Linked DNA regions of Homo sapiens. The protein of the gene in region 3 interacts with the protein of the main gene of each other region in a pairwise test. Each region holds a gene or a part of one and is shown on either strand. Other genes may lie near its edges.

What was found.
Region 1: the proteins of LRRC8E (region 3) and LNX2 interact in a two-hybrid assay, tested with the Homo sapiens proteins (3 studies listed by BioGRID and IntAct).
Region 2: the proteins of LRRC8E (region 3) and TRIM2 interact in binary tests that used the Homo sapiens proteins (3 or more experiments, as listed by UniProt).

Annotation. Positions count from the first base shown.
Region 1 is NC_000013.11:27,550,787-27,554,538, reverse strand, and holds part of LNX2 (ligand of Numb protein X 2), read left to right. Parts: intron 1-1,099; coding exon 1,100-1,331; intron 1,332-3,752.
Region 2 is NC_000004.12:153,333,431-153,337,182, forward strand, and holds part of TRIM2 (tripartite motif-containing protein 2), read left to right. Parts: intron 1-1,383; coding exon 1,384-1,536; 3' UTR 1,537-3,752. UniProt on the Homo sapiens protein: UBE2D1-dependent E3 ubiquitin-protein ligase that mediates the ubiquitination of NEFL and of phosphorylated BCL2L11. Plays a neuroprotective function. May play a role in neuronal rapid ischemic tolerance.
Region 3 is NC_000019.10:7,886,573-7,890,324, forward strand, and holds the start of LRRC8E (volume-regulated anion channel subunit LRRC8E), read left to right. Parts: upstream 1-1,937; 5' UTR 1,938-2,028; intron 2,029-3,752. UniProt on the Homo sapiens protein: Non-essential component of the volume-regulated anion channel (VRAC, also named VSOAC channel), an anion channel required to maintain a constant cell volume in response to extracellular or intracellular osmotic changes.

The DNA.
Region 1 (3,752 bases), on a different chromosome or scaffold from region 3:
ACCCTGAAAATATTATGCAAGTAAAAGAAGCTAGATATAAAAGACCATGTATGATTCCATTTACATGAAATGTTCAGAAGAGGCAAATCTGTAGAGACAGAAAGTAGATTAGTAGTTGCTTAGGGTTGGGGAAGGGAAATGATGGGTATAGAGGGAGTGATTAAAATGTTCTCAAAATTACTGTAGTGATGATTGCACAACTGTGAATATATTAAAACCATAAAATTATGTTCTTTAAATGGGTGAATTGAATAGTATGTGAATTATTTCTCAAGCTGCTATTAAGTAAAGGTTATTTGTCCAGTTGTAGTATTGGGGTAATTTTATTTCCTTTTTGTTCTTTTATTGTGTTTTCTAAATTTTCTACAATGAGAATGATTTGCTTTAATAATCTGAAAAACTGATGATAAATTGGGAGAGATAAATTTCTGTAGACTTTGTAGCACAAATGTCTGCTTCCTACAAAACTAATCCTTTCCTAACCTTTGATATAATCCTCATTGCCATTTTTTATTATATTACTTAGCAGAGCAACAGTTCTTTTCTTCCTGAAACAGGGAAGACATTCAAACCGCAAGTTTCATTTCTTCATGTGGGCCCAGGGATAGCTTCTTTGTACATATTCTGATGTTTGCCCTGAATAAACTATACAGGGCTGTCCTTATGTATAGAACTGTGTAAATATAAAGCAGAATACATTAAAGATTTATTTCTAAGGGCAAAGGATCAAGTGATTTTTGATTGGACAGAATTGTAGAAATCTCTGAAACTCTTAAGAAGAGAAATGAACCTGCCCAGGGCCTGTACACAGCTAAACTCAGACTGATGATTCGAACTTCCAATCATGTCAAGGTGCCTCAGGCCACACTTTTTTCTATGTATTATGACATTATTTTAAAATTATGGAATGTTTTCTGTGTATTGGGTTTCTTCTCAATATTATAAAAATTACAAAGAAATAATAAATGCCATTTATTATTATACCTTATCTCATCAGAGTTGGGGGAACTAACTTTTGTTGCTTAGTTTATAAACAACAAGATTTGCAGGTGAAAACTCAGTGGCTCAGCTCATTTTTCTTGTTTCTTCATCTGAACAGGTGATGTGTTGCTAAATATCAACGGCATTGATTTGACCAATTTAAGTCACAGTGAGGCAGTTGCAATGCTGAAAGCCAGTGCCGCGTCCCCTGCTGTTGCCCTTAAAGCACTTGAGGTCCAGATTGTTGAGGAGGCGACTCAGAACGCGGAGGAGCAGCCGAGTACTTTCAGCGAAAATGAGTATGATGCCAGTTGGTCCCCATCATGGGTCATGTGGCTTGGGCTTCCCAGGTACTGAGCGCTTTCTTGTTGCTTTATGGAAATCATAATCATGCTTGCAGCCCTTATCAGTGTGTAGCATGATAAATTTACTCGTTGGGATAAAAAAAAAAGCTTTAATTCAGTAAAATAGCAACATCAAATCAAATTACAAAAGAAAAGGATAATTTTTCTTAGGATATTACACTTTAAAAGGTACACAAAGAAAGCAGTTGTGTCCATTCCTGTCAAGGCTCCTCAGTGGGCTAGCCATGAGATTGGATAACCCAGCCTCTTGCTTAGAAAAGTTGTCGTTTACCAGCACTCATTCCGCTATGTGCTGAGACTTCATGCATTTTTCATCAGAAAACCCAGGCCAATCTTGGGGCTTCCCCCCATCCCAGAAGCCTTTCTTAACACCTTTTTAAATTTATTTTAACTCTCGCTAAAAAGGGTGGCATTTAAAACTCAATTTTTATTGGATACAAGAGTCTATTAAGCCAAACCATTAGTGTTCAAGAATGGCTGCTTCACTTTTATTTTTTATAAATGTGACCAGCCAAGATATGCTGTGGTTGGTCAGTGTCGGGGTCACAGAAGCACATGGAACCTCCAGTGGCATCCCAGGGTACATTCCTTTCCGCGGTTGTTGTTTGACATTTGAGATAGGAAGAATGTGTTCCTATCATCATTTGTTGTCTAATCCGTTTAGATTCTTACCGTACCTAAGAATCCTAAAACTAAGCTATGAAGCATTTTGACTTTTGACCAAGTATGAAAATTATTGATTCTTTAAAATAAAACAATAAGAATTTGCTATTTTCTGAGCCACCTGACTCGTGGGATACATTTATAACAACAACTAGCATTTATATAGTGCTTCAAGGCGCTTTGCGCATAGTGGGTGAGAAGTGGTCTACTCGTGCAGTGGCTGGGCAGCACGTTGCAGACCTCAGAGCTTGTCTGCACCTCTAATGATGGGGCAGGCAGAGAGCAGCAGCGTCCTGGAGAAACTTGGTCCCTAGTGCTTCCTTTAATTTTCCTTATCTGATATACCAGTCTAGTTTGGAGGTTGGCACATTGACCTCTTTTTTTCAGAGCATTTTCTGGTGTGCCAGGCATAATAGCAAAGATTTTAGATGAGAAATACACAGTATAGTAAAATCTGTTTTTGAGCCCACCTGTGTTGAAAGAATACCTGTCGATAAAAGGCTACTATTCAATGTGTGTATGGAGGTCTCTGTTGAATGCAAAGCTATATTCAACAGCCATGTGTCCTCCTCAGTGGGTGCAGGTGGCCCCTATATGCAGGTTTCACACGGCATAGTGTAGCAGCTCTGCTCTGCTTTTCGTGAAAAGGGAGATTCTTCCACTGCGATTTGCTGGGGTATACAAGAAAGCTGTTTGTTTCAGAAGATGCAGCATTAGGAAAATAACCAACACTGTCCCTTTAAATCCAGGCCAGTGCATGGGACCTTGTTCCATCCCAGAAGCCTTTCTTATCAGTGAGCTAGGAAACTAGATAAGATGAGAAGTTCTGGCATGGTAAACATTGCTTTATAGAATTGGCTTTATTAAGAAATAATAAAACAGGATTTTTAAAATTAATTATTTATATTATGTATATTTATTATTTTATTATGGATTTAAAACAGGAAACCTTGCCTTCCGTGCATTTAGATCCAGTTTCACCTAAAGATGAAAGATATTTATTTATTATGAAGAGTTTTTTTTTCCTTATCATTTAGGTGTGCTTTTTTTGTTTGTTTTGTTTTTAAGATTTTACTCACTGCTTGTTCCCAAATCCATAGAGCTATGGAAACATAAGTACATTTTTTTTTTCTCCCTCTCTGGACACATCCTGCAATCTGGCAGTAGCATTCTAACTGTAGTTTCTCAGTGTCTATGATACATTTATATATGCATGTGTGTGTATAGATGTGTATATATTTTCTTTTTTTTTAAAGATGGGGTCTTGCTCTGTCACCCAAGTTGGCATGATCATAGCTCACTGCAGCCTCAAGCTCCTGGGCACAAGCCATCCTCCTGTCTCAGCCTCCCAGTAACTGGGACTACAGACACATGACGCTGTACCCAGCTTGTCTATGATAGAAAAAAAAAGAAAAAGATTTTTTGTTAGTGTTTTTCAGATTGATTTCTCTATTTTGGCAATTAGAGTCTCCCTTAAAATGAAAACATCCTAAGTAAAGGAGAAAATAACAAATAACTCCTCATGTAGACTAAAAGCCTATAGGACCTTTAGAAAAGAGAGATAATTATCTGCCTTCTTTTCGGAAGCTGCGTTCCTAATCTTTTTCTTCTTTCATTTGCATGCTGGGCTTGGCAGTACTAGACCTCTTTCATCCCACATTGTAATTCCTCTTGTAGATAAAAGTGATTAGTAGAATTGAGGACTTTGTTGACAATGCAGTGAGCTGATATAGGTACATGACC
Region 2 (3,752 bases), on a different chromosome or scaffold from region 3:
TACACACACAACCCAAAGTCAATGTATTGGGTTTTGTGTGGTACCATAATTATAGAAGATGTGACCATTGGAGGAAACTGAGTGAAGAGTACACAGGACCTTTCTCTACTATCTTTGCCACTTCCTATGAATCTATAATTATTTCAAAATAAAAATTTAACAGAAGTAACAAAGCAGAAACCGATAGACCAAAAGAAAGTGATTTCACATCCAAACATATAATCAGCCCCCCGTACCCCCAAATCTCACATTTGTGAATTCAACCAAATACAGATCAAAAATTTCAGGAAAAATAATTTGTTAAATACAATGATTAAAAATAATACGAATTGTAAAAATACATAATATTATTTACATTATATAGCATGCTCTAGGTATTAGAAGTAATCTAGAGATGATTTAAAATATATGGGGGGATGTGCACAGGTTAGGTGCAAATACTAGGCTATTTTATATAAAGGACTTGAGAATCTGAAGATTTTGGTATCAGTCTCCTGGGATACCAGGGGATGGCTTTACCTGTTGAACCATTGACTTCTTACAACCCACTCTTTTCTAAAAAGGAAAAAATAATTTCTACTGTCTCATTGCTATTATGACTCAGGAACATTCTTCCATCATCTAGTTGCTGATTTTTCCCCTTATAAGTGTGGGGGAGGAAAAGGATGTGAGGCTGGAAGTGGAATAAGTGAAGATTTAACATGAACAATAAGCTTCATTCATTTTTAAGCACCATCTAGGGCCCTTCCCACCCAATATTTGTTGTGACCACTATAGGAATACAAGTGAAAGCTAGCAGCCAATGGCATATTCTTCTCCACCACCTGGAAATAGATGGGGAGAGGAGAGAAAGCAAGGTAAGTGGAGAGTAGGATTATAGATATGATAGTGACATAAACAAAGACATATCCATAGATGGATAGATGATTACTTAAGTGCTTTTTTGTTTTGCTTTTTTTTTTTTCTGCTTTTTTTTTTTAAGAGACGGGGTCTCGCTATTTTGCTCAGGCTGTTCTTAAACTCCTGGCCTCAAGGGATCCTCCCACCTTCACCTACCAAAGTACTGGCATTACAGATATAAACCACTGCACCTGGCTTATGCTAATGTTTTAAATATAAAAGCATATATACTGGGCATGGTGGCTCATGGCTATTATCTTAGCACTTTGGGAGGCTGAATCAGGAGAATCGCTTGAGCCTACGAATTAAAGGTTACAGTAAGCTGTCTTCACACCACGGCACACCAGCCTGGGTGTCAGAGTGAGACCCTGTCAAAAAGAAAGAAAGAAACAGAAAAACATTAGCATCAAGAGTTTTCTAACCCATGTTCAGCATATTACTATAACTTCTCCTATAACATTCTGACTTCCTATTTGTTTACAGGTTTTTGATGGGAGTGGATCATTTTTGTCCTACATTAACACATCTGCTGACCCACTCTATGGCCCCCAAGGCCTGGCCCTAACTTCAGATGGTCATGTTGTGGTTGCAGACTCTGGAAATCACTGTTTCAAAGTCTATCGATACTTACAGTAATGGTGGGCAGGTGGATACCCGCTTCCATGGTCTTGCACTATAAACTGGAATGGATTTCTCAATGCGGGACCAGATTATGACTAGAGTTTTTATGCCAGAAGGAATCATTGGTGAACTTTCCAAGGTTATTTCTGAATGTAACAATTTCCTTAAAAATGACTTATCCAATTTCTGTATTTCACCTTTAGGGTTAAAAAAAACTCTTCTACTGAATCTATAAAAACTGCAGTTTTACATCTGTGAACTATGGCTTAAGGGACAGGATTTATGTAGCTAAACTAATTTTGCAAATCAAACAGACACTTAAAAAACTAGCATATGTAAAGGTATTCGTTAATCCTGTGAATGGTAGCTTTTGCACAGAACTTCCAAAAGCAAAACAAAAACAAAATCTATTGTAGTTATATACTTCATTTAACCTAGGTCACAAGACCCAGGGAATCTTCTAACCTCACTTTTACAGTAGGTATTACTCTTGTGACATTTTTTTGGTTATCAACAACTAAATATAAATTACTTTGGAAAAAGTAAGGCTGTCTTGCAAAATGATCCCAGCTCTGATTAGCAGCCCTCTGGAGTTCAGAACTTAAGTATCAGTGCAAATTTCTCAACCTTTCTGGGTTAGACAAAGATCCTTTTTTGTGTGTTCTTTTCACCACCCCTTTGGCTCACCTTGTATCAGCAAACAAAGTACTTCTTCAGGGAAACCTGAAATTTCTAATGCCTTGAAAAGCATATTACAAAAGTAATGCTACCTTTTGGGAAACAAACTGCCCCGTTAACTCCAGATCATTGCACTGGAATGTAATCAAGAAAGTTAGTCATGTTTTATGTACCATGTTTTCACACGTGTCTCTTCTCTTCGACTTCCTGAAAGCGAAAGCTTTACCTCCTGCAAATGTCAGCACATGTAGTAGGACACCAGTATCCTAGGACAGAGAGCCATAAGTAGCCCTTTGGAGGACTGATGGTGTCAACCAAAGGCATGTGATTGATTAATGATTCCCCCTTAGAAAGCAAGTGTTACCAAAGTTGTGTTATCTTGAAAGCATTACAGGTAAGGGCATGTTATGGTTATTTATCATTGTTTAATGAATAGTAGAGGTGTCAAGGGACTATGTATACATGATTAGGGTAAGATAGAATGTATTATATATATATATATATACACACACACATATATATAGCTGAATCTTTGGTGTATTGAAATAGGCAGCACTCTGAAAGACAGAAGCTTCGTCCAGCCACTCTTCAGCACATTCCTTTACTAAGCAGTTTAAAGCCGTCCTAGTGGAGCAAGCCCTAAAGCAGATTTAATTTTTGCCATTTTCCAAGAATGACGGTGGTGGCTTTTAGTCAGAAAATGGCCTTCTGTGCTTTCAAAAAAAAAAACAAAAAAAAAACCACACACACACATAAAAAACCCAACAGGTCAAAATAAAAGTTGAACTTGAGTTACATTTAATTTAAATATAAATGCATTTTGAGAAATGTTAAGAACAATTTAGTCAATCGTTCATCTGTCATTGGTACTGTAAAATAAGCTGTGGTCTATTTCCACTGTTTAATTTTCTACTCAGTTCTACCAAATAGGATGTCATGTTTGACATTTTTGATAGTGACTTTGGGGTCTTCTTCACTGAAAGCACCTTAGAACTGTACTATAAGAAAACATTTCCCCTATGTATAATTATATGAATGTGATGTTTATTGCTTATTAATTTATAATTCAGTCATTCTCTATATAGGACTTCTTAAAATTTAGAAGGGAAATCTAGCTACTTCAAATTGTCTGTTAAATTTATTATGCCCAAATCAACCTCTGAAAAAAGGTTTTTCCAGGAAGATTTACATTTAGGTTTAATATTTTTTTAGTTAGGTAGAGTTTTAAAAAATACTTGAGCCTGTCCGTGATAAAGCTATAAAATTCAATAACTTTTTAGAATGTTAAATGAAGACACTGTTTCCTAACATCAGTGAGATACATCTTTGAATTTAAACATTCATATTTACTGAGTACCTACTAGGTACCAAGTACTCTTTTAGGCACTGGAAATACAGTGATGGACAAAACAGGTAAAAAATCGCTGCCCCCTCAGAGCTGACATTCTGGGGTGGGAATTTCATTTTGCCACGTACTAACGTTCTGCACAAAAGACAGGCTAGACTCTTGTCTAGATTGTTTAAAAGAAACTTTTCAAATTGGTTACATTAAT
Region 3 (3,752 bases):
ATTCTAGGCATGAGCCACCGCGCCCGGCCAAGTCAAGGCTTCTTTTACCCTGTCAGGGAGAACTCTCCGTCTCCCATCCTAAGTCCAGGTAGGAACATTTCCATGGATGGTTTGGTTTTGTTTTGTTTTGTTTTGAGATGGAATCCTGTTCTGTCGCCCAGGCTGGAGTGGGGTGGTGCAATCTCAGTTCACTGTAACCTCCACCTCCCAGGCTCAAGCGATTCTCTTGTCTCAGCCTCCCAAGTAGCACAAGCCACCACACCCAGCTAATTTTTGTATTTTTAGTAGAGACAGGGTTTCACCATGTTGGCCAGGCTGGTCTCAAACGCCTGACCTCAGGTGATCCACCCTCCTCAGCCTCCGAAAGTGCTAGATTACAGGTGTAAGCCACTGTGACCAGCCCAAGCCTACAGCACCCGGTATTCCTAGGTGGTCTCCCATCCAAGTACTAACCAGGTCCGACACTGCTTAGCTTGCGAGGTGAGACGAGGATCAGATGCTTTTAGGGTGGTATGGCCATAGATACATCCAAGGTTTTTCTTTTCTTTTCTTTTTTTATCTTTTTTTTTTTTTTTTTTTTTGAGATGGAGTCTCACTCTTCGCCCAGGCTGGAGTGCAGTGGCGCAATCTCGGCTCACTGCAAGCTCTGCCTCCTGGGTTCACGCCATTCTCCTGCCTCAGCCTCCTGAGTAGCTGGGACTACAGGCGCCCGCCACCACGCCCTGCTAATTTTTTTGTATTTTTGTAGAGACTGTGTTTCACTGTGTTAGCCACGATGGTCTCGATCTCCTGACCTCGTGATCCACCCGCCTCAGCCTCCCAAAGAGCTGGGATTACAGGCGTGAGCCACTGCACCCGGCCTCCAAGGTTTTTCAGACGGAGAACAGATCAAGGTCCACCTCCACAGATTTGCTCATCTAAGACCCAGCTCAGGCCTCCCAAGTGGGGCGGCCAGGGTGGGGGTGGGGAGGCAGAGAAGCTGGGCCCCCCAGGACTTCGGAGCTGCTTGTGCCCCACTCCCCACCTGGAGGGCAGACCACAGTGTTGGGCAGGGACAGACAGGAGGGCATCCCCACTCTACTCAACTTCCGTTGGTTCAGCCCAGTTCCCGCCCATGGCCAGAGCTTGAAGGGAGAAGCCGTCCCCTCCCCGTCCTCTCCTCCCGCAACTCCACTCCCAGCACCTGAAAACTGCAGTCACCTGTGCCTTGGCTGGGCTTTAAGGCCAGGTGACTGGGCCTTGCGGGGTTAGAAGGAGCCCTTCCGCACTTCCTCTTTTTCTTTTTTTTCTTTTGGAGACAGGGTCCTTCTTGGTGGCCCAGGCTGGAGTGCAGTGGCATGATCGTAGCTCGCTGCAGCCTCTCAACTTCCCAGATTCAGGTGATCCTTCCACCTCGGCCTCCAGAGTAGCTGGGACTACAGGCACACACCACCACACCTGGCTAATTTTTAAAATTTTGTTTTTGTAGGTTTTAAAATTTTTTGTAGAGATGTGGTCCCACTATATTGCTCAGGCTGGTTTCAAACTCCTAGGCCCAAGGTATCCTCCTGCCTCGGCCTCCCAAAGTGTTGGATTACAGGCGTGAGTCACAGAGCCCGGCCTCCACATTTTCTCGACAGGGTCCGTAAGACCTGGTTCCCAGAAAGGTGGCCGTAGAATGGCTTTGGGAGTTCAGCGTCCCCAGCTCCCTCAGTTTCCCCAGCTGCCAGGGTCCAGCCAGACTGCAAAGTTGCAAAGTTCTAAGACCCCTGCATCTCCCGCCAGCCCCGAGCCCACCAGGGCAAAGCAGCCTAAGACGGCTGTCTTCCCCCAACCCTGCTGATCGCGCGGCGCCTGGAGTAGGGTCGACCTGGGCGCGCCTGCGGCGAGGCGGGGCCGAGTCGTCCGGGGGCGGGGCGGGGCGGCTCCGGGTCTCCTGTCCCCGCCTGCCCTGACTCACCCTCGCGGCCCGCCCGGGAACTCTGCGGGAGTCGCGGCAGCTCCGCTCCCAGAGACCCAGGAGTTGGGCCCAGCGTCCCTCCCGGAACGGTGAGTAGGTGGCTCTTTGCCTCTGGACACCCCACGAGGTGGCAGGGTGGGGGTCGGGCTGGGAGTCCCCGGGTCTGGACAAGGGGCAGAGCCGCTCCAGGTGCGCCGGCCCTGTGGCCGGGGCAGGCCGTCCCGACACACCAGGAGCTGGGGTGGGGGTGCCGGCCGGTGCAAAGGGAAACCTGGCCCACGAGGTGCCCGTCCTGGGAGCCAGGCAGACGCGGCCAAGTCTCAGAGTGAAGATAAACAGGCTGAAGATAAACTTGACTTTGGGGGTCTCAACCACTTTCCCCTCCCCTTGGCATCTGGGAAGACATTGACAACTCATCCCCGGGAGACTCTCAGAGCTCCAGAACCTACCACTTGGGGTGGGTTCAACCAAGCCTGACCTCTGGTGCTCTTGAACTTACACATGTCCCAGATCTTCAAGTCTGCTGGCAGAGGCGGCTTGGAAAACCACTCGGCTGGGAATCCGCAGGCCTGGGGCCTGACCCAGGACGGGCTACAAAGATGCCACCCTCCCCCACCCTAGACCCTCAGTTTCTCCCTTGCATAAATGGTTGAGGCTCAGCCGGACACCGTGCCTTACGTCTATAATCCCAGCACTTTGGGAGGCCGAGGTGGGCAGGTCACCTGAGGTCAGGTGTTTGAGACCAGCCTGGCTAACACGGTGAAACCCCATCTCTACTAAAAATACAAAAATTAGTGGCGTGTCCCTGTAGTCCCAGCTACTGGGGAGGCTGAGGCTTGAGTACTGCTCGGACCCAAGAGGTGGAGGTTGCAGTGAGTTGAGATTGGGCCACTGCACTCCAGCCTGGGCAACAGAGCGACACTCCATCTCAAAAAAAAAAAAAGATTGAGGCCAGGCACAGTGGCTCACACCTGTAATCCCAGCACTTTGGGAGGCTGAGGTGGGAGGATTGCTTGGACTCAGAAGTTCAAGACCAGCCTGGGCAACATAGCGAGACTCCATCTCTACAAAAAATCTAAAAGTTGGCTGGGCATGGTAGCACGCACCTGTGGTCCCAGCTACTGGGGAGGCTGAGGCAGGAGGATCACTTGAGCCCAGGAGTTCGAGACTACTATGAGCTATGATCGTGCCACTGAACTCCAGCCTGGGTGACAGAGCAAGACTCTATCTCTCTCTCTCTCTCTTTTTTTTTTTTTCAAGATAGAGTCTTGCTCTGTTGCCAGGCCGGAGCGCAGTGGCACGATCTTGGCTCACGGCAACCTCCACCTCCCAGGTTCAAGCGATTCTCCTGCCTCAGCCTCCTGAGTAGCTGGGACTACAAGCATGTGGCACCATACCCAGCTAATCTTTGTATTTTTAGAGATGGGGTTTCATCATGTTGGCCAGGATGGTCTTGATCTCTTGACCTCGTGATCCACCTGCCTCAACCTCTCAAAGTGCTGGGATTACAGGCGTGATCCACTGTGTCCGTCAGGACTCTATGTCTAAAAAAAAAAAAAGGTTGGGCCTTGTTTTCTACAAAACCCCTCTTAGGGCTGAAAACTGCTGGATGTTTCTTGCTTCTTCCCTGCCTCTTAGCATGGGCTGTGGGTGTGGAGGGTCTCACTCTCCCACCCTTCCCCCAGCAGGAACTCATCACCACATTTTTTGGAGGCAAGTGGCTTGAGGAGGACCTGGGAGGGAGGAGGGGTGAGGCATGGGTGGATGGAGCCAGGGCTGGTGGGAGCCACATGGTCTCAGGCTGGAAAGCCTT